Linked DNA regions of Homo sapiens. The protein of the gene in region 2 interacts with the protein of the main gene of each other region in a pairwise test. Each region holds a gene or a part of one and is shown on either strand. Other genes may lie near its edges.

Region 1 (3,649 bases), on a different chromosome or scaffold from region 2:
GGCCTCAAGCAATCCGCCTGCCTGGGCCTCCCAAAGTGCTAGGATTACAGGTGTGAGCCACTGTGCCCGGCCACAAAGAGGTTCTAAGGAGAGCTTGATGTGTTCAAAAGGACCCAGACCTTTCAGCCGGATAAAACAGTGTTAGTCTCATACTGGCTTTGGGCAAATCACTTTATGTCCCTGAGCCTTAGTTTCTCCAAACCAAGAGGACTCTGGGGAGTATTGTTGGTGTTAAAGGAACTGACACATTCCACTACTAGCCTGGCTTGGTTGCCCGCTAACCAGAAACTTCTACCTTCAGTGCTGCCGTGAGTGAATGCTGTTCATTCCCTTAAATGTCCCTGAGCACTCACTATGTGCTAGGCACCCTGCAGGTGCAGGAGACACCGCCTTTGTGGAGCTGATGGTCTAGTAAAGGGGACAGACAGTGAGCACCGAACAGATACAGATCATCTGTGATTTTGTAATATCCAAACTACAGCATCAGGTGGTGCTATGAGGAACAGTCTAGATTCACACACAGAATGTTGGGGGTGCCATTTTGGACAGGGTGGTAAGGGAAGACTTCTCCACATTTGATGAGATGAAAACGGGGAAATGGGGGCAGCATTCCTGCCCAAGGGAGCAGGAGATGCAAAGGCTGCTGTTTCAGGAGCCTCAGGGGTGCTGGTGCAGCTGGGTGGAGTGCCTTGGGGGAGCTTGGGAGTAGCTGAGGTCTGAGGGAGCCGGGGGCCATGCTGGGCTTCACAGGTCCTGATGTGGCCTCTGGATTCCATTCTTCATGTGATGTGAAGCTTTCATGGGGAGCAGATTGAGTAGGGACCTGATGTGATGTGACTTTTGATTGGAGAAAAATCCCTCTTTTTTTTTTTTTTTTGAGACGGAGTCTCGCTCTGTTGCCCAGGCTGGAGTGCAGTGGCGCAATCTCAGCTCACTGCAAGCTCCGCCTCCCAGGTTCACGCCATTCTCCTGCCTCAGCCTCCCAAGTAGCTGGGACTACAGGCACCCACCACCACACCCAGCTAACTTTTTGTATTTTTTTTTTTAGTAGAGACGGGGTTTCACCGTGTTAGCCAGGATGGTCTCGATCTCCTGACCTCGTGATCTGCCAGCCTCGGCCTCCCAAAGTGCTGGGATTACAGGCGTGAGCCACCGTGCCCGGCCGAAAAATCCCTCTTTTGAGTTTGAGTGGTGAGAGTGGAAGCCTGGGACCTCCTAAGAGACTCCTAGAGTCATCCAGGTGCGAGAAGGTGTCTTGGCCATGGGGATGGCAGAAGAATGGTGGGAAGTATCAGATTCCAGTTGTGTTTTGGAGGAAGAGCTCATGTGATTTGCTGATGGATTGAATGTGAGGTGTGTGACAGAGGAAGAAGAGTCAAAAAGGACTCTTAAGGTTTTGGTTTAAACAACAGTGGTGCCATTTACGGGGTGAGGGAGCCCTGGAAGAGGGGCACCCTGGGGCAGGGGGAATCAAGAGTTTGATTTTGCCTGTACTGTTACTTAATTATAAAAAAGAAAATCAGGCTAGGCATGGTGGCTCATGCCTGGAATCCCAGCCCTTTGGGAGGCTGAGGCAGGAGGATCACTTGAGGCCAGGAGTTCCAGATCAGCTCGGGCAACATAGTGAGATTCAGTCTTTAAAAAAATTAGTGAGGCATGGTGGTATGTGCCTGTAGTACTTAGGAGACTTAATGGGGTGATTGCCTGAGCCCAGAAGTTTGAGGTTGTAGTGAGGCTATGATCCCCTCACTGCACTCCAGGCTGGGTGACACAGCAAGACCTGTTTAAAAAAAAAAAAAGAAAGTAAGCTTAAAATCAATTTTTTAAACTTCGACATGTCCTGAGCAATTATATCTGAGATCATAGGTGCTGCTATCTGTGTAATTTATCTAAAGGATGTTAAAATAAATACATAGCCACTAAAATAAAAAGGTCCATGGGGGTACCACCTATACCCATTGCATACACCCAGCTGCTGCCCTAGCACATTGGAAGTGCCAACAATGATTATTAGCCCCTTTAAGAATGAATGAGGAGCTCTTTAGGATGACGACATGGAGAACCTTCAATGAAAACTCCGGTGGGAGAAGTGGGGGCCAGGAGTGGAGCTGGTCTCAGAGAAGTGGGTCATCCGGAAGGTTGGAGGTGGTGGGGGCATTGGGGCCTTGGAAGCTTTTTGGAGAGAAAGGTCTGCTGCTCCCCTGCTCCGAGCCCTCTTCCTGGGGTTGTGAGTCTCCCTTTCTGAGCTTCCTTTTTGCTTCTAAGGAATGTGGGTGCTTTTACCACAAAAACACTTGGCCTTTTCATAGCATAATTTGGTATTCAAGCTGTGGCCTGAGCTTGGAACCATTCTTTGTCCATTTCTGCTGCCCAGGACTTTGAGATGAGTCTGTGTGGGTACTTTGTGAACTATTATGTGACATGGACACATATATACATGAGGAGTGAATGCTTACATCATGCACAGGGTGTTTGTAAAGGCCTTGTTGGGTTAAATACTGTTGGATCACTGTAGAAGCTTTTCATACCGAAACATTAATTTTGGAAACTCCTTCACAAAATCAAATCAAAATTAGGTCTTTTGAAACAGGCTTCTTAACGTATTCTTGTGAAATTTCTCATGAGCAGTTCATTTCTCAGACATGGAAGAGTTAAGTCCTGCGTTCGCTGTTGTGTGTGTTGCAGTGGCTCCGCGATGAGGCTGTGCTGAGTGAGAGACGCCCCCTTCTCAGCTTCTCGCAGACTCTTGCTCCCTGCGCTCCAGCGCCGCTCACGGCTGGTGCTGGCAGGCCTGGCATTTGGGGGCGTGGGAGAAAGTATGCATCAGTGTGTGCAGGGGTGGAGGGGTGGGTGGTTTGTGTGAATAGAAAGTACATGACCTTTCTGAAAATTGTTCAGAAATGTGGAGGAAGGAAGCGAGAGACTTGGCAGTCCTGTAGGCTTTAATGGAATCAGCAATGGACGCTCGGTATGGCTAATCCTCGATGGAGATGGAAAGGGACGGGAGAACACGATCCAAGCCTACTCAGCTGCAGCAGCGTGAGTCCGCTGGGGAACACGGAGAAGACCAGATACTCTCACTCCCACTTGGTAGAACCTCCTGAGGTTCTCCGGCCACTGTAGTGAACCAGTGTCTGGCGAGCGCCCGAATTACGTGAGAAACTGCCCATGTGTCATTGGATCTAAGACACCAATGTTTTAAGGACACGTCAGTGTTTTGTCTATTGCTCAGAAAGAGAACTCACAGCTAATTAACTTGTAACATACCAACTCCAGAGACGTTAACATGTGGAAAATGTAGGTCTTCAAATCAGTGAAATAAGGTAATCTAATTAACAATACCAGGCTATAGCACAATGGTTGCCACAGGGCCACTTTGGGAGGCCAAGGCGTGTGGATCACAAGGTCAGGAGTTCAAGACCAGCCTGGCCAAGATGGTGAAACCACGTCTCTACTAAAAATACAAAAAATTAGCCGGGCATGGTGGCACGCACCTGTAATCCCAGCTACTCCAGAGGCTGAGGCAGAGAATTGCTTAAACCTGGAGGGGCAGAGCTTGCAGTGAGCCAAGATCGCGCCACTGCACTCCAGCCTGGGCGACAGAGTGAGACTGTCACCAAAAAAAAAAAAAAAAAAAAAGGAATCATTT
Region 2 (3,649 bases):
GAGTCTGTGTATACCACTGTTGTGCATGCGTGTGTCTGTGTAGTGTGCATACGTGCCTGTGTGTCTTTGTGCATGCGTGTGTGTGTGCATCTGTGTGTGTCTTAGTCCTTTTCAGCACACATGCTGAAGTAGGTTCCAATGAAATGAAATGAGGAAGTGCTTAACAGGGAAGCTGTCGCCTCAGCAGGGAGAGCAGCTCTCTCCCTCCTCCGCACAGAGGATGCCGGCTCCGGGGTAGAGAGTCCTCGTGAAATCCAATGGGCTTCTCTGCTGGAGTGAGTTCACCAGTCTCCCCACTGAGAAGTGTGTTTAAATTATTCAGTGAGCTTCTTTGATCCTATCTGTTGAACTATGTTTTGTTTTGTTTTGCTCTTTGCAGAGGGAAGTGTTTGTAGATGCTGGGCCACCTTCCAAAGCAATAAAAGGCCCATCCTAGAGCATCTGATGTGCCCAGCATGGTCTAGATTCTAATGGCCTGGTTTATTGCCACAAACAAAAAGAGAAAAGCTACATGGGAGGCAGGCTGCTGCCAGTTCTGCAGCTCTGGGAGTCACGGAAAGGCAGTAGTGCTACCCTGCTCACCTGCACTCAGCTACTTCCTCCCCTCCTTCCCACTAACAGGTTCAAAACACATTTCCTTTCTCAGGAAGTTCAAAGGCACAGATGGATGTTTGGTGACCTTTGCCAATATCTGAATTCAGGAAATTCAGAATGCTTAAAACATCACTATTGTTGGAGCAGGGTCTAACCCTGCCACATTCTCCAGGTCCTCAGCAAACCTTCCCATTGGTTCCTCCTCGGGGTTTGAGCTGGCTCTGGGCACCAAACAGCCCCAGACCTCAGCCAGAAGCAGCTCTTCACCAGTGCCTCCTGTTAATGGGGTTCTGAACAAATCTCTTTTTCTTATTTTTTCAGAAGAACATGAGCTGCCTGTGGACATGGAAACCATCAACCTGGACAGAGATGCAGAGGTAATGCCGCCTGCTCAGCCCAGCCTTGGGCGTGGTGATGGACCACCCTGTCAGGTTATCTTGTATGAGATTAGTAAGTTATTTCCCTAGAGAGGTGGCCTAAGCCTCCCTTGGTTGAGTCAGAGTCCCGTGTTCATGTTTTTCTTACCAGTGATTGTTATCCCCATGTCTATTCGACCCTTGAGGATTGTGTGGCAGATGAGATGCCTTTGACTCATACATTGTCTGGGTCTGATGATTACATTATACATGAGGGTCCCAATGGCCCCAGGCTGTGTATGACTGGCCACTGGGCCTCCTGAGCCCACAGCGTGTCTCTGATGGTGATGGGATGGGGTGCATATCCTCAGAACCTGAGCTTATGTTTTGTGCATACAGGATCTAAGGAATGAGAAAAAGATGTCATGTACCAATCATTTTAAGGGCCAGTTTTACATAAAACTTAGTCATCACTAAGCCAAAGAGCCCCCGCAGCACACCTTGTCACTGACATCTGTCTGCTGCAGACCCACCTGGCACTGCCTCCCCCACTGCTGCCCACTTCCAGGCCGCCTCTTCTAGGACGACACAGGTCTCCAGCCACTTTGCTATAGCTGAGTATAGATTTCTGCTTTGTTTCAGGATGTTGATTTGAATCACTATCGCATAGGGAAGATTGAAGGATTTGAGGTACTGAAGAAAGTGAAGGTGAGAGGGACTCTTATGAGGGGACTATGACGCTCACCCATAGGATGTGGATAAGTCCAGAATCGAGCAGTCAGTCCTGAGTTGTGGTCCTTGTCCCAGCCTGTGGGCGGCGTGGCTGCCTCCACCTTGTAGCAGGCCTTTCTTTACTGGGAGCACAGCAGGTGTGAGACAGCAGTCGAGGGACTTGAGGCACAGCCCTGGGGCTGGCTCTCCTGAGCCCAGGCAGCCAGTGACCTGTGACTCTGGCCTGCCTCGGTTTCTGTGCCTGTGTTCAATTAGGCACTCGCTGACTTTTACAGTCCTCCGTGCCTCTCATTGGAATTTGTCAAAATTGAGCCCACCAAAGGTTCTTATGTTCTGCCAGGAAGTGGCAGACACCCACACCCCAGGCCAACGCCTCCCTCCCCAACTGGCCTGCTTGGTGGGGAGCCTGCCTCCTGCCTCCCTTTGGGTTCCCGCCCTTCCTCAGGTGTGTTAAGGAATTATAGCTTAGTGCCCTTGCCCACCTGCCTCTCAAAGGTCAGCACCTTTCTAGGAAACAGCAGGAGAATGAAGACATGTCCTTCTACCAGAAAGGCCTTTCTTGTGTCCTCCAGTATCAGCTGAGGCCTTCTCGTGGCCTCCCCCTTGCCTGTGTCAATTGTCCCTTTTCCCATCCCCCAGACTCTCTGCCTCCGCCAAAATTTAATTAAATGCATTGAGAATCTGGAGGAGCTACAGAGTCTTCGAGAGCTGGATCTTTACGACAACCAGATCAAGAAGATTGAGAATCTGGAGGCGCTAACAGAGCTGGAGTGAGTCATGAGACCCACAGGAGAACAGCATGGTGGGAAGGCCACTGGGTGGGGGGTGTCCAGTCTCCAGAGCCAACCTCCTGCTGGCTCTTAGCCCTTGAGAGGCTGCCTCTGCCACAGGGTCCTGCCCTGCATCTGAATCCCAAGTCTCTGCCTCCTGTTTTCAGGGCTCCAGGAGGCCTCATCGGCTTCATGCATGTCTTTGGCTTCCTGAACAATCCTGACTTCCAAAGTAAATCTTTGATGGGAAGGCTGCAGTGGGGACTTCTGGAAAGCCTCCATTCAGGGATGATACTGAGATCGGTAGAGAGGAAAGTTAATCCAGAATTGCCTCTTGCCTTTTGAATACTCTTTTTTTTAATTACAAAAAAAAGTGACATTTCTAATTTAAGGAGTCAGGTCCTAGGCCAGGTGCAGTGGTGCATACCTGTAATCTCAGTGCTTTGGGAGGCCAAATTGGGAGGATCACTTGAGCCTAGAAGTTCGAGATAGCCTGGGCAACATAACAAGACCCTGTCTACAAAAATTAAAATTAAAATTAAAAAAGAAGGAGCCAGGTCCTAGTTATAACTTTACCTGGATTTCTGCCCTTTGTCGCTCATTCATTTTTGCTTGTTTTGTTTCTGTTTCTAATTCAATACTTCTCAGGCCCCTTCTGTGTGCAGAGCCTGGTGTGAGGTCCTGTCATGGGCACAAGTGTGAACAAAACATAGTTTCTGCCTCAAATACCATACTGGGAGCCAGGGCATCAGGAGCCTGTAGGCTGCCTCTGGCTTGCTCCGGGCTCCTGGGCAGCCTCCAAATCCCTCATGACAGCATCAGTGTGAGCCAGGCGGCAGCAGGGGCACAGTCAGAACCCCCCACCCTCTCCCACCCGGTAGTGACTGCCGTCCCCTGATGGGGACGCCACCTTTAGTGGTTAAATTGTGAGTTCTATGCAACCTATGCTCGTGAAATTTTTTTAAAAAACTGTTTTGGTTGTTCTCAGGATTCTAGATATTTCTTTTAATCTGCTGAGAAACATCGAAGGGGTTGACAAGTTGACACGACTGAAAAAACTCTTCTTGGTCAACAATAAAATCAGTAAAATTGAGAACTTAAGCAACTTACATCAACTACAGATGCTAGAGCTGGGATCTAACCGCATCCGGGTAGGTGCAGACAGCCCTGACTAGTATATTCAGGGAGAGGCAGCTA
Region 3 (3,649 bases), on a different chromosome or scaffold from region 2:
AACATGGTGAAACCCCATCTCTACTAAAAATACAAAAATTAGCCAGGCGTGGTGGTGTGCGCCTGTAATCCCAGCTACTGGGGAGGCTGAGGCAGGATAATCACTTGAACCCAGTAGATGGAGGTTGCAGTGAGCCAATATTGCGCCACTGCACTCCAACCTGGACGACAGCGAGACTCCGTCTCAGAAACAAAAAAAAGCATACAGTATAACAAGGTGTAAAGTAGAAGGAAAACAAGAACATATGTCTCATAAAATGAGAAGTAGATGAATAGGCCGAAAACAGTGGTCAACTATATTGAATGCTCCTACAAGAGCCTGTAAGACTAATTTAGTAAATAGAAACCACTGGCAACCTTGACTAGAGTAGTTTTAGTGGTAAGAATGGAGGCCAATCTGTAGTAGGCTGAGAAGCAAAGGGAAGTGGAGAGAGCACAAAAAGACAACTTTTGAAAACTGGCTTGGAAGAGAATCAGAGAAATGAGGCTGTAGCTAGAGAATAATGTGGAATGGCGAGAGGGCTTATAAACAAGGAAGCCACACTTAGTGCTGTCCAATAGTGTTGTCTGCAATGATAGGGATGTTCTATATCTGCACTGTCCAATAGAGCAGCCATTAGCACCATATATGGCTACTGAACAACTGAAATATGACTAGCATCACTGAGGACCTAAATTTTTTAAATTTTTCTTTTAACAGCCACACATTTCATTGCAGAAAGCACTATTGATTAGTAGCTACCATACTGGACAGTACAGCCCTAAAGCACATCTGCATATTAATAAAGATAATCCAGAAAGGGAAAAATTCATGATGTAGGCAAGAACGAGGTAAGTCCTTAAGAAGTCAACAGGCTGGCAGGGTGCGATGGCTCACTCCTGTAATCCCAGCACTTTGGGAGGCCAAGGCAGATGAATCACTTGAGGTCAGTAGTTCAAGACCAGCCTGGTCAACACAGAGACGAATCCGTCTCTACTAAAAATACAAAAATTGCCGGGCGCGGTGGTTCACACCTGTAATCCCAGCACTTTGGGAGGCCGAGGCGGGCGGATCACAAGGTCAGGAGATCGAGACCATCCTGGCTAACACGGTGAAACCCTGTCTCTACTAAAAATACAAAAAATTAGCCGGGCGTGGTGGCAGGCGCCTGTAGTCCCAGCTACTCGGAAAGCTGAGGCAGAAGAATGGCGTGAACCTGGGAGGCAGAGCTTGCAGTGAGCTGAGATCGCACCACTGCACTCCGCCTGGGCAACAGAGCGAGACTCCGTCTCAAAAAAAAAAAAAAAAAAAAAAAATACAAAAATTAGCCGGGCGTGGTGGTGGGCACCTGCAGTCCCAACTACTCAAGAGGCTGAGGCAGAAGAATCACCTGAATCTGGGACGCAGAGGCTGCAGTGAGCCAAGATCGTGCCACTGCACTCCAACCTGGCCAACAGAGTGAGACTCCATCTCAAAAAACAGTAAATAAATAAATAAATAAATAAATAAATAAAGAGAAATCAACAGGCTGAGCAGAGTGGCTCATGCCTGTAATCCCAGCACTTTTTGAGGCCGAGTCAGGATGATTGCTTGAGCCCAGCCTGGGCAACACAGGGAGACCCCGCCTATAAAAAAAAAAAAAAAAATTAAGATTAAAAAAAAAGTCAAGAGAAGACATCCAGAGCACAAATGGCACAATCTACATGGGATACAACATGAACAAAGCAAGGCATGAAATTACAGTAACGGGTAGAGATGAAGACTCAGAATATGTATTAAGCCTGATTGGAATCTTAAGCATAAAACTCAATTACAGAGGGCTATAAAATCCAAGCAGGAGGGGGAGGGTAGGTAACTTACATCTACTAAGGACCTATTATGTGACAGGCATTTTCTTTTTTTTTTTTTTTTTTTGAGAGGGAGTCTCGCTCTGTCACCCAGCCTGGAGTACAGTGGCACGATCTCGGCTCACTGCAAGCTCCGCCTGCTGGGTTCAAGCAATTTTTCTGTCTCAGCCTCCCGAGTAGCTGGGATTACAGGCATACGCTACCATGGCCAGTTTTTTCGTATTTTTAGTAGAGATGGGGTTTCACCACGCTGGCCAGGCTGGTCTTGAACTCCTGACCTTGTGATCCGCCCGCCTCGGCCTCCCAAAGTCCTGGGATTACAGGCATTAGCCACCGCGCCCGGCTGTGACAGGCATTTTCTTTTTTCAAGACAGAGTATTGCTCTGTCGCCCAGGCTGGAGTGCAATGGTGTGATCTCGGCTCACTGCAACCTCCGCCTCCTGGGTTCAAGCGATTCTCCTGCCTGGGCCTTCAGAGTAGCTGGGAGTACAGGTATGCACCACCATACTCAGCTAATTTTTTGTATTTTAGTAAAGACGGGTTTTCATCATGTTGGCCAGGCTAGTCTAGAACTCCTGACTTTGTGATCCGCCTGCCTCGGCCTCCCAAAGTGCTGAGATTACAGGCATGAGCCATCGCGCCCAGCCATGACAGGCATTTTCTAAATGACAAATTATTTCTCTCATCTCAAACTACAGTCTTGTAAATGTCATTTTACAAACAAGAGCACTGATGCTCTTTACACACACAGTAAATGCCAAGATTTGGACATAGGCCTGTGACTATAGGGTTAGAATCTTCCCACTGCATAAGGTGGGAGGTTAAGGCCAGGCACGGTGGCTCACGCCTGTAATCCCTGCACTTTGGGAGGCCGAGACGGGTGGATCACTTGAGGTCAGGAGTTCAAGACCAGCCTGGCCAACATGGTTGAAACCCCATCTCTACTAAAAACATAAAATTAGCTGGGCGTGGTGGTGCATGCCTGTAATCCCAGCTACTTGGGAGGCTGCAGCAGGAGAATCACTTGAACCCAGGAGGCGGAGGCTGCAGTGAGCGAAGATCACACCATTGCACTCCAACCTGAACAATAAGAGCAAAACTCCGTCTCAAAACAACGACAACAACAAAACAAAAAAAGGTAGGAGGTTAAGAACCACTGTTTCGGTACCTGGAATTAACATAAACAGCAGATCAATCTGGAAGTAATCAACAAGTGCCAACAAGCCTAGAGGGACTAGGCCAGAGGCAAAAACTATCCTGCCAATGCTTTCCACAGGATAACTAAGGAAAACTTAATAGCTACTTTTTAAAAATTCAAGTGAAAATACCTGTTAAGATGGAAAGAAACTGACTTGCTTACAACTTAGATTATCTACTTTATTGAACACAGATGTATCAATTAGAAAATCAGCACTGTTTTATAATACATACTGAAATAATATCTGGGCATATTAGAAAAACTAAGTCAACATACTCTCTCTCCAATTTGTACATTAAGAAAGGACAATTATTAAACTGAGTCTAACCAGTTATTAAATTACAGCTTAGATTTTAGAGTGGGCAAAGATCATCTAGATCTGTGCTGTCCATGTAACCACCAGCTACATCCAACTATTTTTATTTTTTTTTGAGACGTAGTCTTGCTCTGTCACCCAGACTGGAGTGCAGTGGCGCTCACTGCAAGCTCCGCCTCCTGGGTTCATGCCATTCTCCTGCCTCAGCCTCCCAAGCAGCTGGGACTACAGGCGCCCGCCACCCGGCTAATTTTTTGTATTTTTAGTAGAGACAGGGTTTCACCATGTTAGCTAGGATGGTCTCGATCT

Evidence for each region.
Region 1: the proteins of PPP1R7 (region 2) and TAB1 interact in a two-hybrid assay, tested with the Homo sapiens proteins (one large-scale study listed by BioGRID and IntAct).
Region 3: the proteins of PPP1R7 (region 2) and MAPK6 interact in a two-hybrid assay, tested with the Homo sapiens proteins (one large-scale study listed by BioGRID and IntAct).

Annotation. Positions count from the first base shown.
Region 1 is NC_000022.11:39,402,780-39,406,428, forward strand, and holds part of TAB1 (TGF-beta-activated kinase 1 and MAP3K7-binding protein 1), read left to right. Parts: intron 1-3,649. UniProt on the Homo sapiens protein: Key adapter protein that plays an essential role in JNK and NF-kappa-B activation and proinflammatory cytokines production in response to stimulation with TLRs and cytokines.
Region 2 is NC_000002.12:241,156,892-241,160,540, forward strand, and holds part of PPP1R7 (protein phosphatase 1 regulatory subunit 7), read left to right. Parts: intron 1-915; coding exon 916-971; intron 972-1,592; coding exon 1,593-1,658; intron 1,659-2,321; coding exon 2,322-2,452; intron 2,453-3,440; coding exon 3,441-3,603; intron 3,604-3,649. UniProt on the Homo sapiens protein: Regulatory subunit of protein phosphatase 1.
Region 3 is NC_000015.10:52,025,594-52,029,242, reverse strand, and holds part of MAPK6 (mitogen-activated protein kinase 6), read right to left. Parts: intron 1,605-3,649; exon of another isoform or gene 1,370-1,604; intron 1-1,369. UniProt on the Homo sapiens protein: Atypical MAPK protein. Phosphorylates microtubule-associated protein 2 (MAP2) and MAPKAPK5.